3 separate regions of the Homo sapiens genome follow, and regions 1 and 2 are each linked to region 3. Evidence: fine-mapped expression QTL. A gene starts in region 3. Each other region holds a variant in brackets. All regions are shown on one strand. Distances are between the middles of the regions.

Region 1 (4,244 bases), 130 kb before region 3:
GAGACCTTGATCTCCCAGTGAGTAATACTGGGTAGCAATCAATGGAGGTCTTCCAAATGTCTCTTCATTATACACAGAGAGTTCCCACAAGCCTTGTTCCCCAAAATGCTTAGAAATAAGAGCAGCCTGTGTTCACAAAATTGGGAAAAACCATATACCATAGCCCCAGTGGAGAAACAAGTTGTCCATTAGTAATCATATTAAAGTCCTGAAAAGGCATAAAAGTCTAACTTTGTTTAACCCCACACTTCCCAAATCTATTTGAGGATGCAGCCTTTTAAAGAAAACAGCCAGAAAGACTTTTTCCTTTTTCTTTTTATCTGTTTTTCAAGTTTTCTGCAATAAACAACTATTACTAAAAAAGAAAGCAACAAATACATGGAAAATGAAACAGTTAAAATTGCCATACTAATAGGCTAGAACGCCTGTGAGCAGTCTGTAAGACCTTGATTTTCCTCATCACATTTTTTCCATACCTGAAGCACAACAAAAATCACAATCTCTGACCTATTTGTTGTTAGAGCAGCATTTTTCAAAATAGATTCTATAGACCATTAGTTCCCAGAGATATTAGTGAATGATTCACAAAAAAGAATTTCAGTGTAAAAAAAATTTGGGATGTGCAAAGTTGTGACTGGACTTCCGAGAAACTGTAATATTGTAATGCACATTGTGCATTTTCCAAAGGGATAAATGTAACATGTTTTTGCAAATTTATTTGATCCTTTTGTTAGTAATACCTTGAGTTACTTTTTTCTATCAAATGTATTTTGGAGAACACTGATTTAAAATTCTAGCTCAAGAAGTGTTTGAAGACACAGGGATAACACGGATTAAAATGCTTTTCAGCAGTTGACCTAAGACCTTGGCTGAACTCTGAGGTTTTGCCAAAGGAAAAAATTTTACATGTTTGTGAGATATATCTTGGAAACTCAGGGACTTTGATTTTAAATGTTAAGGAAAGATAGGTAAATTAGATAGATAGATAGATACATACATACATAATCATAATAATAGTGGATTTTTCATATGTATAACCAAAATATGTTTTCCTGACTAAATGAAATGTCCTGTGTGTGTGTGTGTACACACTTCCTTGCATTTGGTCAACCAATATTTATTCAGCATCAACTCTGTTCCAAAAAAAGGTGCCATACTAAACATATAAAAGTGCTTAGGTAAGTAAGTCCATGACCTCTGAAAGTTTAGTCTCACTAACAAGGAAGCCATGCAAATAAACCCAATAATACTATGACAACTGTAGGGACAGAGCTACATCTAAAGAGCCATGGGAGCCTAGAAAGGGACTCAGAGCTTACAGAGACAAGGTTCAGGAAAAGTTTCTTAGAAGAGCAAACTCCTGAGCTAAGACCTCTAACTCCTGGTTCCACCCAGTTCCCACCATTGCTTCCATTTGAAGACCTTATAAAGTATGAAACTGTATCCTACAAATTTAATCTTCTTTTTGTAGTTCTGATAACAGTTTGACAACAAACGGCAATCTTTTCAAATTTTCTTTAAAAGCCGTGTTTACACAGTGGAAATAAAAGTGTCATTAAAATAAATGTGACCTACTGTGCTTAATATAGTACAAGAAATTATCACTAATGAAGATAAAAAAAATATTGGCTCCAAGAATGAGGTGGAACTATCATTCAGATCATACATGTTGAAGAAATACCGAAAATCCTCTTTTTTTGCTGACTGCAATCTGCTACTGAATTCCTTTGAACCATTGAATCATTAATTTTTAAAAATCACATTTGCCAGCCAATTACTCAGCATTCCATGACATGATCAATGATGTTAAAGGTTTTCAGCTCATTGTATTAATCAATTAAGAACAGAATATAAACAAAAAACAACTGTCAGCTGATCTGGATCCACTGCAGATGAACCGCTGTTTAAAACAATTAATAATGAAATAATGCTTCAAAACTAAGGGCAAAGGCCTAATTGATTTTTCAAAAGTAAGAACACTCTAAATGCTCAATTAGTTAATAATTTGCCTACTAATTGATTTCTTCAAGGTGTCTGACTGGCAAAATTGAGAAAGGTTCTATAATCGCTATCCTTCTACAAAAAGCTTGTTTCTAGGCATCTAGGAAGGTTAGAAGATCAGTTCAGACTCCCATTAATATTGTAGAAAACTTTCTCCAAGGATAACAAAGCTACTATCATCAACAAAGAAACTGTCAACTAATAAAACTCTGGGGAGCACTTCAAGAAACCAACTAATTTCATGAAGAATATTAGTAAATTAGATACGAAAAATGATAAAATGATGCAAGTATCTATTAGAAATAACAGACATTTACCAAATGCAAAACAACAGGTTTGAGACTGAGAGACTTGTGATTAAAATGTTTTTAATTGCAGGTAATGAACTAAATAAAGAGAACTGAACATACGAAGATGCTAAGAATTCTTCTAATTACATTGTTATTTCCTAATTCTGTATTTTCACTTGTTAAATCAAGTTTAGCCTAAAGCTGTCTCCTTACAATATTTTAAGTT[C/T]AGCCTAAAAATTTCTCTGTACATAGTAAACTATAACCTAAATAAAGGTATAAGCCTACTATAGCCCACACTTGCACCAATCACCGAGTTTGGGCAAAGGGGGCCAACTGTTCCAACTGCATTCAAATATGGCAACGGCTGAGCTGTAACCAACCCAGCTGTTTCTGTACCTCACTTCCATTTTCTCTATCTCACTTTCTTTTTCCTGTCCCTGAATCTCCTTCCACCATATGGCTGTACTGGAGTCTCTCTGAGCCTACTCTGGTTAAGGAGGCTGCCGAATTAGCAAATTGTTCTTTGCTCAGTTAAACTCTGTTAAATTTAATTTCGCCAAGGATTTTCCTTTAACACACTGTACAGGGTAGGTTACATGACCTTTGGTAATGAACCTGATGAATGTAATGCAGATGATATAATAGAGATGATGTAGTTGGGATACTGCCCCACCCAAATCTCACGGTGAAATGTAATCCCCACAGTGTTGGAGGTGGGGCCTGATGGGAGATGATTGGGTCATGGGGGCAGATTTCTCATGAATGGTTTAGTCCCATCTTTTTGGTACTGTCCTCGGGATAGTGAGTGAGTTCTCCTGAGATCTGGTTGTTTAATAAAAGTGTGTGGCACCTCCTCCCTCTCTCTTGATCCTGCTTTCACCATGTGATGTGCCTGCTCCCCCTTCATCTCCCACCATGATTACAAGTTTCCTGAGGCCTCTCCTGAAACCAAGCAGATGAGGGAGCCATGCTTCCTGAAAAGCATGCAGAATGGTGAGCCAATTAAACCTTTTCTCTTACAAATTACCCAGTCTCACGTAATTTCTTTATAGCAATGCAAGAACAGACTACAATAAATTATAGATGCTAAAAAAAATCTGAAAGTATCTTGAGAGTAGATTACAATGCTCACAGTATACTAGTAGCTAACATTTATTGGACACTTTCTATTAGCCACTTCGCTAAGCATTTTACATAGATTAACTTATTTAATCCTCAGAAATTTCTATGGGAAGTGAAATGTCTTTCCAGCTGGTAATCAGTATGTCTAGTATTTGAATCCAGAAAATCTGGTTGCAGGATCCATGTTCCTAACTTCCTTATTATCCTTTATCAAACCATGCCCTGTTTTAGCACTTTATATAAGCTTTCTTACTTAATCTCACCACAATCCTATTGTTAGATACTCTGTATTAGATACTACATACTGACAAAAAATTCTAATTGAATAATTTGCTCAAGGGTGACTGGACCAGTATACAGTCACTTAGAAATTTACAGGACTGATATCAGAATACAGTCTTTGGGCACAGGTATGAACAGACAGGTTGAGGTCTTCCTACTAAGTATCTGGTGACCTTTGATTTTTAATTGATCCTCACTACTTCACTTCCCCCCCCTCCTTTCTCCCCCAGTATTAACATAGCCACATGACTTCACTTATTTTTCAGGGGTGCTATAAAAAGATTTTTAATAAGCACAAATCGAACATAAAAATTACTAAGTAGGAAGATATTTGCATTAGTAGAAGAGCTCAGGCTTTGGTCTCTAATTCCATAGTCACCCTCAGTGGGCAGCAGTTTCTCCAGTCAACACCAAATGATCCAAGGCCCTACAAAAACGTTGCAAGCCTTTTCTTCTCCCCTTTCCTATCTTTTTGTTTATCCCTTGGGTAAACAGAGATGCAGACAGAGTGAAGGAATCAACCGAGTTTGAAGAATCAGGAGCACCACC
Region 2 (4,244 bases), 36 kb after region 3:
CTGGGATTATAGGTATAAGCCACTGAACCCAGCTGTATCACAGGGTGCTGGTGAAGAATGATTGAGTATATTCACTGCACAATATGATCACTCAGATATTCACCATTATGTTCTTTTTTTGTGAGGATGCAATTATGGTCAAATTGGAAAAGATTTTTATACTTTATGTATTTTACTTTGTTGTGAGAGAAATGGTAGATACACAAATGCCTGAACAGAGTGATTTCAAATAATGAGAAGTGTTACAACAAGGTGAATAGAGTGAAGGCAAAACATTTCTTGACACACAAGAGCTAAAGCATACCACCCAGAATTATTTTCTGCAAAAATGAATGAATGAGTCAATGCATCCAATCAAAGGAAGAGACATTGATGAACCAAGTAACTAACCATGCTTATGACAAAATTGATTTAATTGCTGATGCCATGTGGGATTAAATGTAATTTTAATATGAAGAATTATCAAATGGATGGAGAATTTTGAGATTCAGTAGATACTCTCATTTTTGCTAGGAAGAATTATTTTAGAAAATGGCGTTTGATTTGCATTTATCTGAAAACAGAATAAGCTGAGACAGAGTAAAACAGAAGTTGGCAAACTTTTTCTGTAAAAGATCAATTAGTAAATATTTTAGGTTTTACAGACCAGAATGTCTGTTGCCACTACTCAACTCTGCTGTCCTAGCACATCCTCAATATTTGGTAACTCTTGGTCCTATTAAAATTATTGTAGGAGGTATCTTCTGAAAGAGGAAATCCTTTGTACACGTCTGTTTTACTCTGTAAAACTTTCACAAAAACATACAAATAAAAATAAAAAGCAGCCATCAACAATATGTAAACAAATGGGCATGGTTGTTTTCAACAAACCTTTAAGGGCATTGAAATTTGAATTTCATACAAGTTTCATGTGTCATGAGGTATTGTTCTGATTGTTTTTCATGCATTTAAAAATTTAAACACTGTTCTTAGAGGTCGTAGGCTTTAAAGAAAACCAGTGGCTGGCTGGGTTTTTTTGCTTTTGAACTAGAACTTTGAAGAATGTTGGGAGTCACCAGTTTTCATGACTGGGGTAAATGAAGGAAAGCACTGAAAATTTATTTTTGAGGAGTTAACATTCCTGATTTTTGCTTATCACAGGTGGCTCTAAAACTTTAGGATGTGTACCAATTGAAGTTAGTGACTCACCTGGCCCAAAATCTAGCCAACCTTCCTTTCTTATCTCTTTTTCTTGTACTTGATAAACAATGTTGTAGCAATAACACATATTATTATACAGGCCAAATCTAACACAGTGTCAATTTACATTAGTACAATTTGTAAAATGGCAAATCAGAAATGTCAAGGTGTGGAAATTTTTATTGTTTTGAGACTGGGTCTTGCTCTGTCACCCAGGCTGGAGTGCAGTAGCCAGATCATAGCTCACTATAAACTCAAACTCCTGGGCTCAAGCGATCCTCCTCCTTGGCCTTCCAAAGCACTGGGATTACAGGCATACTAGGGCCTCAAAGAGTGGAAATTTTAAATATGTAAATATATGCCTTGATCTTTCTGTGTGAATACCTAAAGTGCTTCCTCTCCCTGAGTCCTACAACACTGCATCTTTCTGGTATTTCATTTTGTAGATAGACAAAAGAATTCCATAAAGTCCCCTATTATTGGAACCAACGTAAGTAT[A/G]CAGCAATTAGCTTTTACAGACAGTAGTGCAATGAATAATTTTGCTGTATAAGTATATAATTATATAAGATGTAATATGTAATATATTTTGTACAAGTGCAAGTATGTCTTTAGGGTAAATTTTTAGAAGAGGAATAAATGGATGAAATAGTGTATATATGTTTATACTTTTACCCTCCATAGTTTTGTTTTGATTTTTTTTGTTTTGTTTGTTTTTAAGTGACCGGGTCTTGCTATGTATATCACCCACGCTGATATTGAACTTCTGGGCTCAAGCAATCCTCCCACCTTCACCTCCTGAGTAGCTGGGACTACGGGAGTTAAGCTACCATGCCCAGCTGATTGTACTGATTTATAGCAAAATATTGAGTGGCTGTGTCCCTCAGAATATAAAATGTGTGATCACATTTTTCCCCCACTGTGAAAAGTTATTTGTGACATCTCGTTTTAATTTGTGTTTCCCTCATGACTAAGGTTGTCGTACATCCCTTTATTTGATTGTGATCCATTGGTGTTTATTTTTCCTGAACTATCTGTTCAAGCCTTTTGCCGATTTTTCTTTCTTCTTTGTTTGGCAAAAGATTTTTAAATACTTTAAGTGCTGAGATACATGTGCAGGACGTGCAGTTTTGTTACATAGGTATACATGTGCCATGGTGGTTTGCTGCACCCATCAACCCGTCATCTACAGTAGGTATTTCTCCTAATGCTCTCCCTCCTCTAGCCCTCCACCCCGTGACAGGCCCCTGTGTGTTATGTTCCCCTCCCTGTGTCCATGTGTTTTCATTGTTCAACTCCCACTTATAAGTGAGAACGTGAGGTATTTGGTTTTCTGTTCCTGTGTTAGTTTGTTGGGAATGATGGTTTCCAGCTTCATCCATGTCCCTGCAAAGGACATGACCTCATCCTTTTTTATGGCTGCATAGTATTCCATGGTGTACATGTGCCACATTTTCTTATCCAGTCTATCATTGATGGGCATTTGGGTTGGTTCCAAGTCTTTGCTGTTGTGAATAGTGCTGCAGTAAACATACGTGTGCATGTGTCTCTATAGTAGAATGATTTATAATTCTTTGGGTATATACCCAGTAATGGGATTGCTGGGTCAAATGATATTTCTGGTTCTAGGTCCTTGAGGAATCGCCATGCTGTCTTCTACAATGGTTGAAGTAATTTACACTCCCTTCAACAGTGTAAAGGCATTCCTATTTCTCCACATCCTCTCCAGCATCTGTTGTTTCCTGACTTCTTTTTTTTTTTTTTTATTTGAGACAGAGTCTCGCTCTGTCGCCCAGGCTGGAGTGCAGTGGCGTGATCTCGGCTCACTGCAAGCTCCGCCTCCCGGGTTCACGCCATTCCCCTGCCTCAGCCTCCTGCTTAGCTGGGACTACGGGTGCCCTCCACCACACCTAGCTAATTTTTTATATTTTTAGTAGAGATGGTGTTTCACTGTGTTAGCCAGGATGGTCTTCATCTCCTGACCTCATGATCCGCCCGCCTCGGCCTCCCAAAGTGCTGGGATTACAGGCGTGAGCCACCGTGCCCAGCCCCTGACTTTTTAATGATCACCATTCTAACTGGTGTGAGATGGTGTCTCATTGTGGTTTTGATTTGCATTTCTCTAATGACCATTGATGATGAGCTTTTTTTCATGTGTTTGTGGGCCGCATCTATTGGGGAGGTTTTTTGTTTCTTAGTTTTTTTTTAGAGAATTCTTTGTATGTTTAGAAAATTAGTCCTTTGCCTTTAATAGGAATTATAAATATTTATTGTTTATCTTTTAACATTGCTTATGGATTTAAAAACAATCAAAAAGAAATTTTTAAATGTGCTACATTTTCAAATTTCCTATTTGCTCTTTTCCTTAGTTCTGGGAAATCCTTAGTTATTATGGCTTGTAAATCTGCTTTTCTTAAACTTCTGTCTCTTTCTGAGGCTCATCTCTGCCTTCATCTTCATAGAGCCTTGAACTCTGTCTTCTCTTCTTTCCTTTTAAGGACACTTGCATTGGATTTAGGGCCTACCCTAACTCAGGATGCTCTCCTCTCTAGAACCTTAACTTAATTACAACCACAAACACTTTTTTTCTAAACAAGGTCACGTTCACAGTTTCACATTCACAGGTTCCGGGAGATGCCTTTCAAACCACTTCAGCCATTCAACCTGCCACAATAACCCTATTTGATTGTTTATCTGATTTTTCCCTACAATGGTTGATGCCCCAAATTATAGCTCCAACACATTTGATCTGAATATTTAGTACTCTTGAAATATATTTTTAAATTTCTCTCAAAAGGATAATCATTTTGTGCCTTCTGATATACAAGGTGTGAGTGTTGTCAACAGTTTTCCATGATTCACTCCATTCTGGGACTTGCAATAGCAAGCAACTGAGAACTTCTAAAACTACTTAATTTTTATTTCTTCTGCTCCATAAACTTTTTGATTTTTTAAAAAAATATGTATAGTAAGTCTCACTCCTGTTTTTGTATTCCAGCATAAGCGATGTACCAAACTAAAACTTGGTACTGTGTTAAATGGTAGCAGTAGACATCAAGGACTTCCTT
Region 3 (4,244 bases):
TAGTAGAGACGGGGTTTCACTATGTTGGCCAGGCTGGTCTCAAACTCCTGACCTCGTGATCCGCCCGCCTTGGCCTCCCAAAGTGCTGGAAGTACAGGTGTGAGCCACTGCACCCGGCCTGATATTTCTTTATACTAACAATAGCTTTACACCACAGAGCAAAGAAAAGGAAAACAAAAACCAAAAAACAACAAAAAAGCAAACCCACAGTGAGTAATGCACGTAGATGAAGGCCCAGTGTGGGCATTGTGGGGAACTTGTCGTTGGCAAATCCAGCCTGCATGCATGCCATTTGATTACCTTTGGGGGGCACGCTTGCATGGGGGAATTTAGGCATGCCCTGAAAAGATATATAGCAGCAGAAAAGGGCTGGGAGGGGCTTTTTTCCCTTGGGGATGCTAGTAAACTGCATAGTGTGTCTGCATTTTGATGGTGACCCATCACATGTGACCAGGTGTGGAATTTTGCACTTGAGGTATTACTTGTCGGAACTCAAAAAGTTTTGGATTTTGGAGCATTTCAGGTTTTGGATTTTTGGATTAGGGATGCTCAATGCTCAATCTGTAGTAAGGTTTTATCTTAATCAAAAAACAGATCATTATTTTGTTAGGGAATAATAATTCTTCAGATAAATTCAAGAGAAATGTGATCCATTTCACCCACCTTAACACAGAGGCACCAGTGTGCCTGCTAAGGTTATTTATAGATCCGAAGTCACTTAATGGTGCAGATAATCTCCCACTTTTTCTTCCCATCATAGTGTCTGGGCTTATGTTGTTCAACACCAACAGGGTAGCCACTGGGCATTTAAATTCAAATGTAAATTAATTAAAATGAAATGAAAAATTTAATTCTTATTGCACACTATCTACATTCCACACACTATGTAGCCACAGTTGGCCACCATATTAGACAGCAAAGAACTAGAACAGCTATACAATCACAGAATGTATTATTAGACAGCACTGGACATGGTTGGGTTGGTCAAATGAACTGCTATTCAAATTTAATACAACACTGATAAATGATAAATGGAGACCATTTATTTACTTCCCATTGAGAAAGCTCTAGCCAGATAAACAGATTCCTGCAAATTGGTCCCTAAGATAAATTTTGTAGGGGCCAGAGGCAGTAGTGTCCTTAGACCCAAGCAAGAAAAACCGTGTTCTAGGCCCTCCATTTTAGAGGACACCAACCTGACTCTTCTTATGGGGTGAAAAATCTCCAGGCCAGCACCCAAAGCCTGGGTACCCACTATGTCCCCAAGACCCAGGACCCTGGAATTCCCTGACTGGTATTACCAAAGCCACTTCTTGGCCCTGAGCTAGCTTCTTCTGAGAACTGTCCTCCCAATGAAGGACCCAACAACTGGTATAGGCACACCTGAGATCCAGACGCAGACAGAGGGTGGCTGTTAGAAAGTGTGAACAGAACTTGGTTTTGTGGGCTGCGGTGTTCACACACAGGTACAAAAAATCCCCTCTTGTCCTTGAAGATAGCTGGGCACAGGAAGCAAAGACGGTGAAGGTGTACAGGCCAAAGGTTTGGATCTGACTCTTTCCCACCTGCCATGTTTCAGGGAGAAACTCCAAGGTGTCTGAGAATCCTGCTTACAAACCTTCCAGGTTGTTATGAAGGTAATTTCTCAAGGCAGGAGCACAGAATATATTTTATTAGCATGATATAGTCCTTGTAAAATTTTAAACATAGGGTAGGTAAGCCCTGGGCTTGCAAATGTTAGGGCGAGGCTGGAAGTCAGAGTAATCAATTCTGTTGGGGTTTCTTGGAGGGTTTGCTCATTATTGCTCGAACTGGTGAACATCTCAAGTATCTTTGCCTGTCGAATTTCTTTCAAAAGGCTGCCTTTCTAGTGAGGTCCAGATGCATCCTTTAGAGACCATCGCTGTTGTTGCTGAAGGCCAGAAACAGCTTCAGATTGTTCACTGTATTGAAGAGGAACCTGTTTACTGGCTCCAGTGTATTTGGGACAAATAAGACTACCATAATGAGGTGAGAAGGCGATTCCTTCCGAAACACTTGGTTTTGGGTACTTTTCCCATAGGGTTGGTCAGGGAAATTCCCTACTCTCGTCCCTACTCCATCCTCCGGGCCAGGCTCCTTGGGCCACATGGGCAGTCTCCAGGAGCGCACAAGACTGCTTTGTCCTGTGCCCGCGGTGCGAGCGCGGTGGCGGCGAAGGGAAACGAGCAGGAGAGTGGCCACCGCGGGTGGAGTTTGGACTCGAACTTTCCTCCGTTCGGACTCGAACTTTCCTCCGTTCTCTCTACGAGTTACTGCCTTCCCGCGGGCTCCCCACAACTCCTGCCCGGAGGCCGAGGCCCGGGCGCGCACCGGGTCGGAGTCGGGCTCGGCAGGTCCCGGGAGCGCGCGCCTCCTCCCCGAGGTCCCGGGCAGCTGCAGACACGGGGAGAGCAGGAGAGCCGGGAAAGAGGAGGGGAAGGGGCGGGGGCGGCCGCCGGCGGCGGGCGGGGAGGAGCCGCCGCGCGCGGGTCCTGGCCAGGGGAGGAGGCAGTGGCGGCGGCGGCGGCGGCAGAGGAGGAGGAGGAGGCGGTGCTCGCGCCGGGCGGTAGAGCGGCGCTGGGACCCATGCGGCCGTGACCCCCGGCTCCCTAGAGGCCCAGCGCAGCCGCAGCGGACAAAGGAGCATGTCCGCGCCGGGGAAGGCCCGTCCTCCGGCCGCCATAAGGCTCCGGTCGCCGCTGGGCCCGCGCCGCGCTCCTGCCCGCCCGGGCTCCGGGGCGGCCCGCTAGGCCAGTGCGCCGCCGCTCGCCCCGCAGGCCCCGGCCCGCAGCATGGAGCCACCCGGACGCCGGCGGGGCCGCGCGCAGCCGCCGCTGTTGCTGCCGCTCTCGCTGTTAGCGCTGCTCGCGCTGCTGGGAGGCGGCGGCGGCGGCGGCGCCGCGGCGCTGCCCGCCGGCTGCAAGCACGATGGGCGGCCCCGAGGGGCTGGCAGGGCGGCGGGCGCCGCCGAGGGCAAGGTGGTGTGCAGCAGCCTGGAACTCGCGCAGGTCCTGCCCCCAGATACTCTGCCCAACCGCACGGTCACCCTGTGAGTATCTCCCGCGACGCTGGGTCCTCTCCCGCTCGGCTCTTTCTTATCTCTCCGCTCAACTTTGGAGCAGGGTCCAGCCGGCACCCACGCGCCTTTGTGTGGAGCTGTAGGCAGGGGGCGGTGCTAGGAAAGACCTCGTGTGCTTGGCATGGGTGCAGTTCAGGGAAAGGCAAGGGAATCTGCGTCCGAGCTGCCTCCCAGCTCCACTAGTTTGCAAAGTAAAGTTTTCGGGTTCTCAGGCGCTCCCCGCGCTGTCCCCGGCGCAGCGCTTTTGGGCTGCGCGGTGCCACGTGAGGATGCAAGTAAACACGCAGTCAACAGAGTTAAAGCTCATTCATCCTGGGCTTGGGTTTCCAGAAAACACAATGCTTGATTGCAAGCGCCAGTCCTTCTGCTTCTTTGCAAATTAAGTTACACTTACGTGGTAGAGTTTGCAAAACACAAGGACTGTGTGCGAGCCCAAACCCCAAGACGCTTCCTTTGCCTTTTGCTATCTTAGTTTTATTACAGTTAAAGAGCACCTTTTAAGATAGAGTTGTTATTAAGGGCTGGAAACATTTCAGATCAATCTGTTTATGTACCTTGCAGTCCCGTTTTCGTGTCTGTGAGGGCTTATATTTAAAAGCCAGGAACATTGGAACTGAAAACCGTGGGTTTATTGAGCCTTCCAACTCGAGGGATTTTTGATTTTCGGATTGAGTTTCCACCTGGAAGGAAAAATTTTGGTAACTCACTTGTGCTGGGATTCACGGTTCAGTTTTGCAAACGTAGTTTTGCCAATTCTAGCTGAACAGTTGGCCCCAGTGACTGTCGAGTTTGTTTTCAGAAGGATGAATTGGTTTGGAAAGTTTTGAGTCTAAGTGTTTCTCATGGGTATTTTGTTCAACTGAAATGTGAGTCCCTTGGCTCGGGGTTCCTCTATGTTGTTTTGGTTGGTTTCCTAAAAAAAGAATCAAGGCAGCCACTATACAAACATGAATGCAAGGACCGCAGCATGATCTATGAAAACACTTAAAGTATGGTTTTAAATGTAACCCAAATTCAGCAGGAGTATACACAGGTAGGCCAGGTATACATTTCATTACTAACACTTTTGTTTACCTTCATTTCCATTTTTTGAATTAGGAAACGTTTAACCATGAAAATTGTGTCTATGTGTCTATTTATGGAG

Which allele goes with the higher level. Positions count from the first base shown, and alleles are read on the strand shown. Sizes are in standard deviations (SD) of each study's normalised expression. Not every link is listed here.
In carriers of allele T in region 1, the expression in aorta of the gene that starts at base 2,532 in region 3 tends to be higher than with C alone (moderate effect, 0.72 SD a copy in GTEx).

What was found. PIP is the estimated chance that this variant, and not a neighbour inherited with it, causes the effect.
Region 1: its variant is the best candidate, but not a certain one, in a credible set for the expression of ADGRA3 in aorta (GTEx, PIP 0.70).
Region 2: its variant is the best candidate, but not a certain one, in a credible set for the expression of ADGRA3 in whole blood (INTERVAL, PIP 0.90).

The regions. Positions count from the first base shown.
Region 1 is chr4:22,642,601-22,646,844 of GRCh38, reverse strand. No RefSeq gene overlaps it. Among named protein-coding and RNA genes, the nearest start is that of ADGRA3, 130 kb to the right of the region's middle. The variant C/T (reference allele first, on the strand shown) is at 2,518.
Region 2 is chr4:22,478,164-22,482,407 of GRCh38, reverse strand. All of the region lies in intron 1 of ADGRA3 (adhesion G protein-coupled receptor A3), which reads left to right. Among named protein-coding and RNA genes, the nearest start is that of MIR12115, 35 kb to the left of the region's middle. The variant A/G (reference allele first, on the strand shown) is at 1,678.
Region 3 is chr4:22,514,354-22,518,597 of GRCh38, reverse strand. It overlaps ADGRA3 (adhesion G protein-coupled receptor A3), which reads left to right and starts at 2,532. Exons shown (of 19, transcript NM_145290.4): 1 at 2,532-3,070. The coding sequence starts at 2,814. MIR12115 (microRNA 12115) reads right to left here and starts at 3,286; the gene lies at 3,213-3,286.